Regions from separate parts of the Homo sapiens genome. Here all the other regions are reported to be linked to region 2. The links are microRNA targets in miRTarBase. Many come from high-throughput screens and were not tested one by one. Region 2 holds a microRNA gene; each other region holds the end of a gene's coding sequence.

Region 1 (3,000 bases), not on the chromosome of region 2:
GTCCAGCTCAAAAAAACTAATTTTCTCATAGTCTTCATTTTTTTATTAGCTTTGCCTAAATATTATGTTTTTTTTTATTGCAGTGATTCTCTTTCTGAAAGTTTAAAAATACTTTGCAAATTTATAATCTCATCTTCTCTTTCCTCAACTCTCACTGTGCAGGGCCCTGTGTTTTTCCTTGAAGACGGGAAATCTGCTATCTCCTTGAATGATGCTTTGATGTGGGCAAAGGTGAATCCATTCTCACCTTTAGGGACTGGAATACGACTCAATCCATTCTGATAGAAGATTTTTGTCCATGCTTGATTTTTTTTTTTAAAGAAAAACTTTCATGGGTTAGCATTACCTTAATCTTTGTTGCTCAAGTGCCAGAGGTTGGGAGAAGGATTGCAGGTTGGGAGAGGTGGGAAATAGCAGTGAATTTTAGTCATTAACTTCAAAATATATATATATATATAATTTAAAGGAAAAATAGGTGCCTCCTTTATAAACAGTAATAGCTACGTTTGGGAAGGAGGAAACATTTAAATTATAAAGGACTGAATAATCTAAAAAGCATATAAAAGTTTCACACAGCATAAAAGATACCAAAATATCATATGGTTGAAATATTGAAACATATTAAATTGTGCAACACCTAGAATAGTGCTAGACATACAGTAAGTACTTAATGGATATTTGAATGATTGAATATCTTGAAATGTTGAAATGTAAGGTGTGCACAGTGATCTTCAACTTAACAAACACTTACGTTCTCCTTTATAAAATGCATAGTAAACCACTAACGTTAGCTGTTTTAATAAAAGTTTTCAGTTATAAGTTTAGTAAATATTAATAAATGGATACACATTCAAAATACTTTTAAAAAAAAGAAAATGTTACCAGTTTTTTTATCTGAAGTTTAACTGTCCCATTGTAAAGGTGTAAGTTATATAGGCTTGAAAAAAATTGGCGGGTAAAAATCACAAAATGCAGTCGAATATATATATGAAAACTTGCATTAGGTGATAAAGTGACTATTTTAAGAGATTCAGCATGCATGGATATTAGTTTTGATTAATGTGTACAATAATTTACACAGTATACTCTAGTCAATTTATGTTAACTTTATTTAAAACACAATTTATTTGGCCGGGCACGGTGGCTCACACCTGTAATCTCAGCACTTTGGCAGGCCAAGGCAGGTGGATCACCTGAGGTCAGGAGTTCATGACCAGCCTGGCCAGCATGGTAAAACCCTGTCTCCACTAAAAATACAAAAATTAGCCAGGCATGGTGGCGGGCACCTGTAATCCCAGTTACTTGGGAAGCTGAGGCAGGAGAATCCCTTGAACCTGGGAGGCAGAGGTTCCAGTGAGCCAAGATCGCACCACTGCACTCCAGCCTGGGCAACAAAGAGCGAAACTCTGTCTCAAAAAACAAACCAACAAAAACCACAATTGATTTGATGAAAATTAGTTTTAAGTAAATGTTTGTAAATAGATATTGGTTGAATTTTTGGATATATTATGTTGATTTAACTTTTAAAATGTTGTTTAAAAGTGTGAAGCTATGAAAAGCCTGATAATGTGACTACAGATATTTCAGTTGGACTAGAATTCTGACTTTGAAACTTATTAAATTAATGCATACTGGAAGTACTTTGATACTCAAGTTGTTTCACAAGATTTATAATATAGATGGTTTTGTTTGACTAAAGAATAATCTCATATAACTAGAATACTTGTGGCTTTTATTATCTTTAAACTTGTTGCATTTAAAATATTTTTAAAACCTTCTTAACAAAACTTCTTAAAACTGGAAAAAATATATATTATGTATCTATGTATCATATTTATCACATGACCACTTTTGATTCCTTAAAAAGACATTACAGGCTTAAATTCCATTTTATTAAAAAAAAAAAATTGCCTGTAATCCCAGCACTTCAGGAGGCCGAGATGGGCAGATCTTGAGGTCGGTAGATGGAGACCATCCTGGCCAACATGGTGAAACCCTGTCTCTACTAAAAATACAAAAATTAGCTGGGTGTGGTGGTGTGTACCTGTAGTCCCAGCTACCCAGGAAGCTAAGGCAGGAGAATCGCTTGAATCCAGGAGGCGGAGGTTGCAGTGAGCTGAGATCGCACTACTGCACTCCAGCCTGGGCGACAGAGCAAGACCACCATCTCCAAAAATTATATATATAAAAATAATTAATATTATAGAAGAGAATATACACAACTCAGAGATGCAATGGATAATATAAAAAGAGTACCTGAGATGTATTTTTTTAAACTCTTAGAGATATCTGTAACTCAAATTTTTCTTAGGTGAGGAGGATTATTAACTGGCACATATGTACTAAAAACCCCTCACTTAAAAATGGCAGTCTCAATCCTACTGTCATTCTTTTTATTTTAAAATAAATAAATAAGCCTATCTTTTTGTGCTTACATACTTAAAAGGATATCATTAAGTATATAAACAATCATTACTTCTGTATTTTTAATGAATGCAGGAAAATAATATTTTTATGTATAAAAGATGAAGAAAAAATTTTGCAAGTCTTTAAGCACATAAATACAACAGAATAGCCACCCAATTTCTGTCTGAAATCTAAATTGGATGGATTTGACCATCATTCTATTATCTTTGATTTCTACAATGTCTATATCTTATTACCTATAACTATTAATTTTTCATAGAATTATAAATGTCATTTGACTATGTCAATCTGTATATATTGTACCTTAATATGAAAAACAAATTTTTTAATTCATAAAAGTATTTTTATTAGATTTCATATGCATGAAACCCAAGCAAATTATATGAATTTATTTTACTATTTGAAAATGTTCATATTACCAATAATGTGGACAAATTACTTTGCAGGTTTAAATATGCCTCTGTAAAGGAAGAGTCTCATTAGACAATGATTTTTAAAGCATTGGAAAAATATTTTGCCTGTAAAAGTTAGTAACTAGGTGGTTCACAAAATTACAACATCAAAATAGTTACA
Region 2 (3,153 bases):
ATAGTTGCATTCCTGAGAGGTTCTTACAGTCTTGGGCAGGCCTTGGACAGGGTTTCCTAAATGTGATAAAAATGAGAAAAACTGAAAAACTAACATAACTTCAAACAGAATGCTTGTCTGCCTATGTTTATGGGACTTTCCTGAATACATTTAAAAAAAAAACCTTTGTATTACAGAAAATTTCAACTGTGTGCAATAGTACAGAGAAGAATTCCATGTATCAACAGCCTTGCTTTAACAATAATCAATTCATGAGCAATTTTGTAAACCCACCCAGTTATCATACAGGCACATACTGGATTATTTTGAAGATATTTTTAGGTATCATATTTCATTTATACATTTTTATTATGAAAATCTAAAATATAATGGCTTTTTAGAAACATAACAGCAATGCCACTAACACATTTAAAACGAGATAAATAATTCCTTAATACACTCAGTGTCAATTTTTCTGATTGCCTCATATAAATTTTTTAACAGATGTTTTGTTTGAATATGAATCTAGACAAAGCTCAGCGTTTGGTTACTATATTTCTTCAGTCTTTTTCAAGTGTATAGCTTTTCTTTTCTCTATTTTTAACTTTTTTTGCAAATTGTTTGCTGGAGAAATCTTTTTATTTAATCTAGTAGAACTTCTCATATTCTGAATTTTGTTGCTTACATCCTTGTGGTGTCATTCATCATGGGATTTTGTCTTGGACTCCAGAAAATAACAATAACACAAATTTGTTAACTTCTATAAACTGCTTACTATGGGCCAGACTGTGTGTGAAGTGCTTTATTTGTAATGTTTAATTCTTCATATCTCTAGTTTGTATGTGGTAAGTACAAACCTGAAATATTTTACGTGATTTTTACGTTTTGTAATTTTTATTTATTTATTCATTTATTTATTTATTTTTAGAGACGGGGTCTCGCTGTGTTGCCCAGGCTGGAGCGAGTGCAGTGGTGCAGTCAGTCCTAGCTCACTGCAGCCTCGAACTCCTGGGCTCAAGCAGCAATCCTCCTGCCTCAGCCTCCCTACTAGCTGGGACTACAGACTGGTCTCCATCTCCTGGGCTTTAAGGGACCCTCACCTTGTGCTGAGATTACAGGCATGAACCATTGTGACTGGAAATTTTGTAAAATTTAAACAATGTGATATTACCTATTAATGAAGTCATACTTTATGTATGTAATCTGAAATAATTCAGATAACAATTTTTAAGAATCATTTAATTTAAAATCATGCAGCCTGATTTATAACTGTTTATAATAATAATATAATAATATAATAATGATGATTTCACTTTGAACTTTTAGCTGATAAAAAGATATATTTGCTCTATTTTATAAAACTAATTTTAGCTATGCTATTTTAACATTATATAAATACTTTTTGAATACATTCTTTCAGTAAAATCCAACTACCATTATATTTGCTTTCCTCAGTATTTCTTGGGGAAGGATTCTAAATAGGGGAGCATTTGTGTATTTCTGTATGACTCTGGTTATAATGCCATTCAATGTAAGCCTTACACACACACACACACACACACACACACACACACACACACAAATGCACACACCTCCAGAATGCTGGGTTCTTGGCTCATGAATCATTGAAATTTATATAAAATTTATTTTAAATCCTATTGCAGAAAAGTTCTTAGCACATTCATGCATTTTCATGTGACCATTTTTATACTACAGTTTTAATTTTATATATTTGGGATCATTATTGTTGACCTTTTCTTTTCTTTTTTTTTAATAGAGTTTATTTTAGAGAAGTTTTAGGTTCCCAGAAAAATTGTAGAGTACAGATAGATGTATCCCATATGCTCTCTGTTCCCACACATGCATAGCCTCCCCCACTAGTAACATCCTTCATGACAGAGGTACATTTGCTACAACTTATGAACTTACACTGACACATCATTATCACCCAAAGTCCATAGTTTATATTAAGGTTCATTCTTGGTGTTGTACATTCTATGGATTTGGGCAAGCGCATAATGATATTTATTCACCATTGTGGTATCAAATAGAGTAGTTTCATTGCCCTAAAAATCCTCTGTGTTCTGTGATGGACGTTTTCATGATCACCACTGGTTCAGATTCCCTGCACTTACTAATTCCCAGTCTGCATTTATAATTATTTTCTCCCGGAGTCTCCCCACCTCCTCCCCAAAGTAAATATGGATAAACTGCTGTTGCATATAATTCACCTTGACTTAAAATTTATGGGACATAAGGAGGGAATATACCCCTTAGAGAGTTAAAAACCGAAGTCAAATATTACAACTTCTTGTCCTAAGAGTTCTCTTAGCAACCCAATCTCAGCCTCTCAAGAAAGAAAAAAATCCTCCAGTTAACATATGAAAAGAAACTCACTTTTACGTCTACGCTTGAATCTCCTAAATCACTAAAGGGCTAAGGAAAACAAATGTACTTTTCATATAATATGATCCATTCTTTTTAATAAATCCATTATAAACATAACTGCAGTGTTTTCTTATATATTTATATACTACGTGTAAGGCACTGTCTATATACCAAGATTATTCAAATTCTGTCAATAACTCTGCAAGGAAAATATTATCACTCCCACATTGTGGATGAGAAAAATAAGGTTCAGAAATGTCAATCAGATACTTTACCCAGTAAAGTTTAAAATACTAGCTTCAAAATACTGAGTCAAGTATTTGGATTTAGGTTTCTTTGTACAAAACTATGCTGTATCAATTATTATGTTAATGTTTTGTCTCTTTTTTTTCTCCTATTACATTTTAAACTCACTGATGCAGATAGCATGGACAGAAATATCCTGGCAGATTTCATAGCTGTTTAGAGCTCTCAGGTCCCTGTGGACCCATTTCCTCTGAGAGATTTTCTATTAGGAGACCACGAATCCAGTGTAGGACACAGCACCCACTACTGCTGCTACATTGTCTCAACTGTCTTGTTCTTCCTAGGATTTCTCTCTCATAGGCTCATGCTTTCCTTAGCCAGGAAGGGGGAGGAGCAGGGGGCTGGGGCCCCTAAATGGGTCTGTAGCTTCTACTTCTATCTGTTTTCCATTGTCACTAACCCTAAGTAAGGAACAAGCATTTGTTCCTTTTCAGATACCCCCTTATATTATTGCCTTATTTTAATATTTTTCTTTTTTAA
Region 3 (3,000 bases), not on the chromosome of region 2:
TGAGGATAGTGCATTTTGTACATAATTCTTCTACTCATCATTACTTCTCTCACTATTCATAATAAATTCATGTATTTTCTCCTTATAGGCAGGAATAATATATTTTTAACTGTTTTTCTTCTACTGGAAACCTCTGGACCCAATTAGCTTCTATTGATAGTGATTCTTCCATTAATATCTTTGACAGAGAAAATCCATGGTGTATAATTCTTATTTCCAGAGCTTGGGTTGTCTTAGAAAGTAGCTTCTTGGGATTATGTTTGATAATAATTGCTGTGATGATCATGATTAACCAGAACATCTGAGGTCAACTCATCAGTATAAAGCCTTTCTGTAAATGCTTTACAGAAGCATTGGACAGCGATTAGATTGAGGAAAAGATCAGATATGGTTGAGTTTTGTCTTCTTTGGAGTCCTTATTATTAGTACCTGAGTGCTTCACTGCCATCTAGCTGTGTGGAGGTGGAAGAAAACTGCATCTGATCCCATGGCAGGAAACTATGTGTTTGTGGAGATGAAAGAGAAGAGAAACTATAACTTGATGAAATGTTTATTGCCAATTTTTATGAAGTACAATTTTCTGGATCCTATATCCAGAAGGCCATGACAATAAATTTAAATATAATTGTACAGAATTCCAGTAGTGACACAAAAAGATGCAAATATTCTGAATATTCATGTGGGAAACTATGACAACATTCTTTGTTCAGGATGGGATGTGTTATAATGTTTCTAGAGACGTTTTGGCTCCTAAACCACGTCATTTAGCTCCTTGGATAGGTTTGTCAATAATTAATTAAAACAAAATCTGGAAAATCCAAATTTTGAAATTCGGAAATTTTTTTAAAACCTAATTTTATTCCCAACCACACAAATCTCTCTTTATTATATAGTTCTGAATATAGCCCCAAATGGTGTTTATCTTTTTCTTCCATTCACTATTTTCTTTCTTTCTTTTTTTCAAGGTGGAGTCTTGCTCAGTCACCCAGGCTGGAGTGCAGTGGTGCGATCTCGGCTCACTGCAACCTCTGCCTCCCGGGTTCAACCAATTCTCCTGCCTCAGCCTCCTGAGTAGCTAGGATTACAGGTGCCCGCTACTGCACCCAGCTAATTTTTGTATTTTTAGTAGAGACGGGATTTCACTATGTTGGCCAGGCTGGTCTCGAACTCCTGACTTCGTGATCCACCCATCTTGGCCTCCCAAAGTGCTGGGATTACAGGCGTGAGCCACCGCGCCCGGCCTCATTCACTATTTTCTAACCAAGGAGTTCAATGAATGTGGAGCCTTACAAAAACACCTGGCACCAAACAAAAGTAATATAGTACAGAACTATAGTTAAAATGAAAGAACAGACATATACCCTTACTACCAAAAGAGGAGATCATGTTAAATACCTTAATTTCATGTATGTGTCTCATTTCTTCTCTGGGTTAGTTCTTATCTTGGGCTAGTTTATGTTGGCTTCTTATTCAAAGTAATAACTCCTTTGTTCTTGGACATATTCATAGAGTGGGGTGTTGCTATCTAAGCAGAAGGAACCAGAGCCTGTTCTTTCCTTTGTATGGTAACCGCTGGCCTCAGAGCCTCTTTGTTTTTTGCCCACATCCTCACCGTATATTCTGATACCTCCTGACAGACTTGACTCTGACTCTTGCCTTTGTCTCCCCCACTGCATATGGTTGCACTGCTTGATGAATATCTATACCTATACTCTTCAATTCCTGCAGGGTCTTGGCTGTCAAGAAAGTGACTGAAAATGTATCTTTGACTTTTGCTGTCATTTGACTACTCATAACTATCATTTGATTGGCCATGGCTGTATACTTGTCTTTCATTGGTACTGAATCCAGACTGACCCTAGGCATCTCTTGATGGCCCATGACTTAATACCTATCTGGCAAAACCTGTGCTGGATCTTACCTGCCCATGAAAAGTTGTATCTCCGAAATGTTGCTGGCTAGATCCATGTATACCTATTGTATTGAACTCTAACTTCCCATGCCTAGATCCTAATTGCTCATGAGTGTCTTTCTCCCAATCTTCTGAATGCTTTTTGTTATCAGTATGGGATTCCTGTTTTCTGATTGAACTAGATTTTGAATGGCCATGAACTGATATGGATTGTCCATGGCCAAATCCAAGGTGGTCATTTGACTGGCTATGTGTACATCCCTCCCTTCTGGCTGTGTTATATCCAGGTTGAACATAGGTGTTGTTTGACTGTTTATGAGTTACTATAGAATGTCCATGACTAGATTCCTGACTTCTTATAATAATAGGTCGAGACTGATACTGAGAATCAACTGAATGTTCATAACTTACCATTGACTGTTCATGATTTAAACTGTGTCTTCCTGTTCTTTTAGTTGCTTTGGATACTATAAGGTCAGAACTAGAAAATAACTGTCAATGTCTAGACAGTTGCTTGTTTGCAGTGCTGTCTGTTGACCATGAAAGGTGAGAATTACTGATGCTTTTTCTGCTGCCACCAGAAGGCCCATACCCAGTGTGCCCATAGTCATATTCTGCAGGTCCATAGCTGCCATGTTTCCAAACCTGACTTGATCCATGCCTTTGCCTTTCACTACTATGTGACTGAAAATGACTTGCTCTACTAGATCTGGAACCTGTCTGTGTGGATTGTCCATAACCAGAATGGCCATGTCTAGTGGTATCTCCTGTCTGTCCATGAGTAGTTTCCAGTCTCCCATGAACTGTGGATCCTGGCTGTCTTTGTTGAGATCCAGCTTGGCCCTGAATGTGTCCTGAATGTGTGTGTGAGCCCCATGAGTGCACTTCACTGTCACTGGACTCACTGTGGCCAGATCCCCTTCTTCCAGTTGTCCTGGACCCTCTCTGTGTGGATTGTCCATAACCATAGTGGGCATGTCTAGTGGTATCTCCTGTCTGTCCATGAGTAGTTCCCTGTCTCCCATGACCTGAGGATCCTGACTGTCCATGTCGAGATCCGGCTTGGCTGTGAGTGTGTCCTGAATGTG
Region 4 (3,000 bases), not on the chromosome of region 2:
CACAACTGCAAAAGATTTCCATCATCTCAGAAAGTTCTATAGCACAGTGCTGGCTAGAAACCAAGTGCTTTACTGCATGCACATCATTTAGCACAGTTAGTTGCTGTTTATTATTCCTGTTCCACAGCTATTGTCTGCCATATAAAAACTTAGGCCAGGCACAGTGGCTCACACCTGTAATCCCAGCACTTTGGAAGGCCGAGGCAGGCAGATCACAAGGTCAGGAGTTCGAGACCAGCCTGGCCAACATAGCAAAACCCCATCTCTACTAAAAATACAAAAATTAGCCAGGCATGGTGGCGTGTGCACTGGTTTAGAGTGAGGACCACATTTTTTTGGTGCCGTGTTACACATATGACCGTGACTTTGTTACACCACTACAGGAGGAAGAGTAGAAGAACAATCTAGAAAACCAAAAGAACAAGAATTTCTTGGTAAGAAGCCGGGAACAGACAACAGAAGTCATGAAGCCCAAGTGAAATCAAAGGTGCTAAATGGTCGCCCAGGAGACATCCGTTGTGCTTGCCTGCGTTTTGGAAGCTCTGAAGTCACATCACAGGACACGGGGCAGTGGCAACCTTGTCTCTATGCCAGCTCAGTCCCATCAGAGAGCGAGCGCTACCCACTTCTAAATAGCAATTTCGCCGTTGAAGAGGAAGGGCAAAACCACTAGAACTCTCCATCTTATTTTCATGTATATGTGTTCATTAAAGCATGAATGGTATGGAACTCTCTCCACCCTATATGTAGTATAAAGAAAAGTAGGTTTACATTCATCTCATTCCAACTTCCCAGTTCAGGAGTCCCAAGGAAAGCCCCAGCACTAACGTAAATACACAACACACACACTCTACCCTATACAACTGGACATTGTCTGCGTGGTTCCTTTCTCAGCCGCTTCTGACTGCTGATTCTCCCGTTCACGTTGCCTAATAAACATCCTTCAAGAACTCTGGGCTGCTACCCAGAAATCATTTTACCCTTGGCTCAATCCTCTAAGCTAACCCCCTTCTACTGAGCCTTCAGTCTTGAATTTCTAAAAAACAGAGGCCATGGCAGAATAATCTTTGGGTAACTTCAAAACGGGGCAGCCAAACCCATGAGGCAATGTCAGGAACAGAAGGATGAATGAGGTCCCAGGCAGAGAATCATACTTAGCAAAGTTTTACCTGTGCGTTACTAATTGGCCTCTTTAAGAGTTAGTTTCTTTGGGATTGCTATGAATGATACCCTGAATTTGGCCTGCACTAATTTGATGTTTACAGGTGGACACACAAGGTGCAAATCAATGCGTACGTTTCCTGAGAAGTGTCTAAAAACACCAAAAAGGGATCCGTACATTCAATGTTTATGCAAGGAAGGAAAGAAAGAAGGAAGTGAAGAGGGAGAAGGGATGGAGGTCACACTGGTAGAACGTAACCACGGAAAAGAGCGCATCAGGCCTGGCACGGTGGCTCAGGCCTATAACCCCAGCTCCCTAGGAGACCAAGGCGGGAGCATCTCTTGAGGCCAGGAGTTTGAGACCAGCCTGGGCAGCATAGCAAGACACATCCCTACAAAAAATTAGAAATTGGCTGGATGTGGTGGCATACGCCTGTAGTCCTAGCCACTCAGGAGGCTGAGGCAGGAGGATTGCTTGAGCCCAGGAGTTCGAGGCTGCAGTCAGTCATGATGGCACCACTGCACTCCAGCCTGGGCAACAGAGCAAGATCCTGTCTTTAAGGAAAAAAAGACAAGATGAGCATACCAGCAGTCCTTGAACATTATCAAAAAGTTCAGCATATTAGAATCACCGGGAGGCCTTGTTAAAAGAGTTCGCTGGGCCCATCTTCAGAGTCTCTGAGTTGTTGGTCTGGAATAGAGCCAAATGTTTTGTGTGTCTAACAATTCCCAGGTGCTGTTGCTGCTGCTACTATTCCAGGAACACACTTTGAGAACCATTGTGTTATTGCTCTGCACGCCCACCCACTCTCAACTCCCACGAAAAAAATCAACTTCCAGAGCTAAGATTTCGGTGGAAGTCCTGGTTCCATATCTGGTGCAAGATCTCCCCTCACGAATCAGTTGAGTCAACATTCTAGCTCAACAACATCACACGATTAACATTAACGAAAATTATTCATTTGGGAAACTATCAGCCAGTTTTCACTTCTGAAGGGGCAGGAGAGTGTTATGAGAAATCACGGCAGTTTTCAGCAGGGTCCAGATTCAGATTAAATAACTATTTTCTGTCATTTCTGTGACCAACCACATACAAACAGACTCATCTGTGCACTCTCCCCCTCCCCCTTCAGGTATATGTTTTCTGAGTAAAGTTGAAAAGAATCTCAGACCAGAAAATATAGATATATATTTAAATCTTACTTGAGTAGAACTGATTACGACTTTTGGGTGTTGAGGGGTCTATAAGATCAAAACTTTTCCATGATAATACTAAGATGTTATCGACCATTTATCTGTCCTTCTCTCAAAAGTGTATGGTGGAATTTTCCAGAAGCTATGTGATACGTGATGATGTCATCACTCTGCTGTTAACATATAATAAATTTATTGCTATTGTTTATAAAAGAATAAATGATATTTTTTAAAAAGTCTTGGTTTTTATTATAAATATGATAAATATTGCTAGCTATAATCTACATAACCAAAAACCTTTATAGTTTTTTGGTGCTTTTTTTTTGTTTTTTTGTTTTTTTTTTTTTTGAGATGGAGTGTTGCTCCGTTGCCCAGGCTGGAGTGCAGTGCACAATCTCGGCTCACTGCAGCTTCTGCCTGCTGGGTTCAAGTGATTCTCTTGCCTCAGCCTCCCAAGTAGCTGGGACTACAGGCACCCACCACCAAGTCCAGCTAATTTTTGTATTTTTAGCAGAGACGGGGTTTCACCATGTTGGCCAGGCTGGTCTCGAACTCCTCACCTCAAGTGATCCACCCAACTCAGCCTCCCAAAGTGGTGGGATTACAGGCGTGAGCCACGGCACCCAGCCTGGTATCCTCTATAGT

What was found. The annotated mature microRNA hsa-miR-3135b reads GGCUGGAGCGAGUGCAGUGGUG and lies in region 2 at 933-954, shown strand. An mRNA with a match to its seed (bases 2 to 7 or 8) in the 3' UTR can be bound and repressed. Matches are read on the target gene's strand: a 7mer-m8 pairs with bases 2 to 8, a 7mer-A1 pairs with bases 2 to 7 and ends in A, and an 8mer does both.
Region 1: the mRNA of WDR17 is a reported target of hsa-miR-3135b. Seed matches in the 3' UTR shown: 7mer-m8 at 1,378-1,384 and 7mer-m8 at 2,136-2,142.
Region 3: miRTarBase lists FLG2 as a target of hsa-miR-3135b. Seed matches in the 3' UTR shown: 7mer-A1 at 1,909-1,915 and 7mer-m8 at 990-996.
Region 4: miRTarBase lists IL2RA as a target of hsa-miR-3135b. Seed matches in the 3' UTR shown: 7mer-m8 at 1,686-1,692.

The regions. Positions count from the first base shown.
Region 1 is chr4:176,179,298-176,182,297 of GRCh38, forward strand. It overlaps WDR17 (WD repeat domain 17), which reads left to right. Exons shown (of 29, transcript NM_181265.4): 29 at 163-3,000. The coding sequence ends at 282. Among named protein-coding and RNA genes, the nearest start is that of SPATA4, 15 kb to the right of the region's middle.
Region 2 is chr6:32,747,753-32,750,905 of GRCh38, reverse strand. MIR3135B (microRNA 3135b) reads left to right here and starts at 927; the gene lies at 927-994.
Region 3 is chr1:152,348,203-152,351,202 of GRCh38, forward strand. It overlaps FLG2 (filaggrin 2), which reads right to left. Exons shown (of 3, transcript NM_001014342.3): 3 at 533-3,000. The coding sequence ends at 2,408. The region is part of intron 7 of CCDST (cervical cancer associated DHX9 suppressive transcript); the gene reads left to right. Among named protein-coding and RNA genes, the nearest start is that of FLG2, 10 kb to the right of the region's middle.
Region 4 is chr10:6,010,280-6,013,279 of GRCh38, reverse strand. It overlaps IL2RA (interleukin 2 receptor subunit alpha), which reads left to right. Exons shown (of 8, transcript NM_000417.3): 8 at 384-2,591. The coding sequence ends at 408. Among named protein-coding and RNA genes, the nearest start is that of IL2RA-AS1, 24 kb to the left of the region's middle.